Linked DNA regions of Homo sapiens: region 2 is linked to region 1. Evidence: fine-mapped expression QTL. Tissue or cell type: atrial appendage. Region 1 holds a variant in brackets; the other region holds the start of a gene. All regions are shown on one strand. Distances are between the middles of the regions.

The links. PIP is the estimated chance that this variant, and not a neighbour inherited with it, causes the effect.
Region 2: TDRD9 starts here. The variant in region 1 is fine-mapped to the expression of TDRD9 in atrial appendage (GTEx, PIP above 0.99).

The regions. Positions count from the first base shown.
Region 1 is chr14:104,039,513-104,042,272 of GRCh38, reverse strand. TDRD9 (tudor domain containing 9) reads right to left here. Exons shown (of 36, transcript NM_153046.3): 33 at 1,939-2,077; 34 at 86-204. Among named protein-coding and RNA genes, the nearest start is that of ASPG, 45 kb to the left of the region's middle. The variant C/T (reference allele first, on the strand shown) is at 1,327.
Region 2 is chr14:103,926,961-103,929,583 of GRCh38, reverse strand. It overlaps TDRD9 (tudor domain containing 9), which reads right to left and starts at 1,128. Exons shown (of 36, transcript NM_153046.3): 1 at 860-1,128. The coding sequence starts at 1,074.

The sequences.
Region 1 (2,760 bases):
CCTACACAATTCAAAACAGCCATGATCAAGGCAGCTGAGAAAGTTGACTGGGAAGAAAAGAAGCCCGCGTCATCACACAGCTTACCCTAAAAGCTTCTGACGGGCAATGTCTTGAAGCTGCGCAACTCTCTCTGGCCCAAGACACTTGCATCCATTTGGTCCATCACAGACTAGCTTGTTAATAGCAGCCCTGAGAATATTAACCTGTAAATGAACAGCAACATAAACACTCATAAGGCTCCGTCGTAACTGAATTTCATCCCGTTAGAGAATTCATAGCATTCAGAGTTAGTATTCTCTGTCATCAGTATGGTTTATCCACTCGCCTGCTGAAGGCATCTTGACTGCTCCCAGTTTTTAGCAATTATGACTCAAGCTGCAATTGATATTCACATACAAGCTCTATGTGGATGCTAGTTTTCAAATCTCTTGAATAAATACCTACAGATGGGATTCCTGGGTCATATGGTAGATGCAGGCTTAACTTCATATGAAACTGTCTTCTAAAATAGTGGTACTAATCTGCATTCCCACCAGCAATGAACAAAAGGTCCCCGGTCCCCCTGCACCACCTCCTTGCCATTGCTGGTTACTGTCAGGTTTTGGATTTCAGCCATTCCAGTAAGTAGGTGGTGCTATCTCATGGAAGTCTCAATTTGCATTTTCCTAATGACATATGATGCTGAGCATCTTTTCATGGGTTTACTGTCATCCGTATTTTAATTCTGTTGCTTGTTTTCTTATAATTGAGTTTTAAGAGTGCCTTACATATTGTGGATACAAGTCCTTCATCAGATATGTAACCTGTAACTATTTTCTCCTGGTGTGCACTTTGTCTTTTCTTCCTCTGAAGAGGGTCTTTTGCGGAACAAAAGTTTTTAATTTTGATAAATTCAAACGTATCAATTTCCCCTTCACAGATTGTGCTTTGGGTGTTGTATTTATAAACTCATGCCACACCCAAAGTCACACAGATTTCCTGAATTTGCTTGTAGCACTTTAATAGTTTTACATTTTCCCATTAGGTCTATGGCTTAAGGAGTATTTTCAAGCCCATAAGCCCCTTCTTGTGACCAGGCAATTATGACTTAACAGTTGCAGAGACAACACTGATACCTGCCCCCGGAGCATCGGCAGCTGTCTCTGCAGCTCCTCCTTTCCCCCGGCCCTTCAGTGTGGTTATGTTAACCTCACCCGTCTCATGGAACTTCTAAGAAAGAAAGGCGACTGAGTACTTAGAAAGTAGCATTTCTCAAACTATTTGTGGTAAAGGATCAGTTTTGGTCTTCCCACTTTGTAAAATGCAATAAAAATAAATTACTATAA[C/T]GATGAAAGATCTTTTTTAATGTACACAAATACGAGCCCACATTTCTATTATTAGATTCAAATGACATACAAATACTTTGTGTACTTGCTACACAGTTTCCCTGTCTGCCTTGCCACCTCACCCCAGAGCTAGTGCGGTGCCCAGACAATGCTGCAAGCAGCTCAGCTCTGCACTCACGCTGACCCAGCCCTCTGCTCAGCATGGTCACCAGGCCGGGAGAAGGGCAGAGGGGCAGGACCTTGTGTCCTCCTTTCCCAGTAAGAACTAGCAAGGATGTTCCACTTCCTGACTTGGAATGAGACCCACAGCAGCCCTACAGCCCCGTGGTTTAGCTGATTGCCCAGAAAAGCTTATGCCAGGAGACACCAAATGAGAGACTCAGAGAGCACCATCAGGAAGTTACTTTTCACAGGAAAGATACATCAAACTGGCAAGTTAAGGAGCGGTCCTCCTGGAGGGTGACTCCAGGAGGGACAAGGAACGTGCACATCTCCAGGACCAGAGGTGTGTGTCTGCACCGCGAGCTCCACAGCAGACCCTGCACTCACTGTCAGGTAAGCAAAACCAGAGAGAGACAGGGTTGTGGTGCCGTGATGCTGCACTACCCTTACCTCGACGACATCCTCCACGCTGAATTGAACGTCAAACGCAAGCTCCATGTCGTGCTCGGGCAGTATGGAAGCCCCTGTAGCTGGATTCCACCCCAAACCACAAAGGACTCCAGTATAGTACTTGCCATTCTGATCAATCCTAAATGGAATGTTTTCAGAAGAGTCCATTATTTCAGAATTGTTAAAGTATATGTTTTAGCATGTAAAAATTGACCGATAAAATTATCCTAAATTCTGCCAGCCCTAGTACAGCAATTAATTTCACTTGTGCATTTTTCTGCCAGTTTTCACAATCAAAATATAGTTATAAAATATAGTTATAAGAATAGTAAATTCAGTATTTTTATTAATACTTAATAATTTGTATTAATACTTTATTAAGTTTCTAATGTGGTAGATAAGATAATGAAAAGAATATTTTATCATGAATGGGTTTTTTTTTCCCTTGCCTTCGAATTCTTTCCATGGGTTAAATTCTTATTAGGGAGATTTCTGGAGAAAGGGCTATGTACATATTTATGACCTGTCAAACAAGTCTAGCACTTAGTAAAAGCCTAAAAAAATGTTCCACCTTCTCATCCTAAAACAATGGTGCACACTTACAAAGTTTTGTATCCCAGTTTTATCACCACCCTCCTCTGACCACTGGCACGTCCTGTCACCTTTATCACTCCCTAATAGCCTCTCCATGGCTGCGGCCAACAGCCTGGTCCAAGCCACTGCCATTTCTCACCTGGACTTGGTAACAACTTTCCGACCAATTCCCCATCTCTTACTCCTGCCTCTTCCAATCTTTTCTCCATATAGCACACAGGAGTAGCT
Region 2 (2,623 bases), 110 kb after region 1:
GGCGCCACTCCACTCCAGCCTGGGTAACAAAGTGAGACTCCATCTCGGGGGGTGGGGGGAGAACTTGGAAGCAACCAAGCTCTCCTTCAGTAGGTGAATGGAGATAAACTGTGGTACATCCAGACAGTGGAATATTAATCAGTGCTAAAAGGAAAGAAGCTATCAAACCATGGAAAGGCATGGAGGAACCCCCAAATGCATACTAATACTAAGTGACAGAAACCCATCAAAAAGGCTACACATACTGTGTGATTCCAACTAGATGACAGTATGGAAAAGCAAAATTATGGAGACAGTAAAAAAATCAGTGGTTTCCACGTGGTGTAGGGAAAGGGAGGCAGGAACAGTGGGGCCGAGAAGATCTGTAGGTCAGTGAACTCTGTAATGCGTGACGTTAGGCGTTTGTCCAAACCCACAGAACGTCCAGTACGAGGCGTGAACCCTCCTGTAACGATGGCCTCCGGGTGACGAAGACGCAGCGATGCAGGTTCGCCGACTGTCACAAATACCCACACCTTACGCAGATGCTCACAGGGGAAACTCTGGGAGGGAAGGGGCCTATGGGACCTCTGCCCTCCGCTCCGTTATCCTGAAAACCTGAGTGCCTCAAAAACTAGTCTGTTAAACATTAAGAACTGAAAAAAAAAAAAAAAAAAAAACCTCTAGCTCAGCTTCCTTACAGGCACCGCTCTGGGCCGCGCGTCGGGTTGTGTAGTGACCACTCGCCCTGGACGGTCAGGGGTCCCTGGAGCCCCGCGAGAGGGCACGGGCTCGCGAGAAGGATCTGGATGGCCCGTGCCCTCGTCGCCAGGCCTCGCCCGGCCGCCCTCCAGCCGCCTCCGCCCCGCCCGCGTCCTACCTTTCGAACGCAGCGGCCGGCCGGGCCGGAGCTTGGGCCAGAGCCGGAGCCTGGGCCGCGGGACCAGCGCCGGGGGCCACGTCCTGGCGCTGCACCTCCTCCCTGGCCGCCCCTGCCGGGAAGGCGGGCGGCGCGCCCAGCAGCTCCACATTGGTCACCGTCTTGCCGATGGTGAACCAGTCGTTGATCTGCTCGATGGTGAGCTTCCGCAGCATCCTCAAGGCCCAGGCGTCGGCATCCCCCAACTGCCGGGTCTCCGCGGCGGGAACAGGCGACGGCGGAAGCGCACCCTGGAAGCCCCGCCCCCGCTCGAGGCCTTCCAATCAGAACGCGCCGCGCGCCCTTGTGGGCGGGCTCCGGCCCGGGCGCGTGCTGCCCGCGCTGCCTGGTCCTCGTGCCGCCGGCCCCGCCCCGCCGCGCTAGGCCTGCCGGGAGCCGCCGCCCCGAGCGAGCCCAGGGTGAGCCTTTCTAGGACCTCAGGGGAAGCTTGAGCGCCGCGGCTGGCCCGGGAGTCTGTTTCACGGGAGTTCCGTGGCAACCCCTGTGTGTACAAGAAAATGCCCTCCGGTCACTCCCTGGCCTCTCTATTTAGAGGCTGCTGCCTCGGAGGTTTGTGCGCTTTGAGCGGACCGGGACCCTACATACGTTTCTTGAGCACCTCAGGGTGAGGAGATGGAAGGCAAACCAGAGAAGGGATTTGCGTTCGTGGGTCAGACGTACCAGGACATCCTTGCACCTAATATGGGGGGAGAGGGGCAAGAAGAAGGTCAGGAAGGTCTCGGAGAAAGTAACGCCAGGCAGACCCCTGCAGGATACGGGGGAATGCGCCAGACGGAGGACCACCCAGGGTTATAGGGGAGGGCAGGCGGCCCTGATGGCTGAGGTGAGGATCTGGGAGAAGTTCTTTGCAGCCGGATCATAACTGAATTCATCTTCCTTCCTAAACCGGTGTCTCAGGCGGCGGTGTCAGACTCACAGCTGGACACAAACAGGTGCGGACAGGAGGTCCAGGCGATCACATGGACCAAAGATACAGGCTGAGGTGGTCCCGGCCGAGCTCTAGAAGAGTGAGGGTGGAGAACAGAGCCCTAGCAAACTCCCCAAAAGAAGGAGCCGCGGGAAGAAATCAACAAAGGATGCACGGGAAGGCAGCCACGTGTGCAAGGGAAGGGAGGGTCAGAAGAGAGACATGGCCACCTGCCTGGGGTGTGTCCCCCTCACTGGCCAGGGCAGGATCTATCTGGCCCATGTGGGCTCTCAGGAAAGAGCCATGTGAACAAATACAGAGACGGTATCGAGAGCATGGCTCTAATCAGCAGTGTAAAGCCCAAGCAGTGGCAAATAAGAGGGCGGTTTGAAAACACTGTAGACAGAAATCAGGCAGGTAGGTTGAGCTATTGGTGTCTCAAAAATTGAACCCATAATCATACTAAGCCAGGAGTTCTGGCTCCAAATCCTGGCATAATGAGCTCTAGACCTCATATTAGGACTCTGCCAAATACGACAGGTTCCCAAAAGTGCCTCAACACACTTTGCCAGGAAGAAATAACTTGCTTTTCTTTTTTCTTTTGAGGCAGGGTCTCACTCCTGTCGCTGAGGCTGGAGTGCCGTGCTGCAATCAGGGCTCACTGCAGCCTCAACTTCGGGGGCTCAGGTGATGCTCCCACCACAACCTCCTGCATAGCTGGAACTACAGGCTCACGCCACCACCACACCGGCTAATTTTTTATATTTTTAGTACAGACAGGGGTTTCGCTGTGTTGC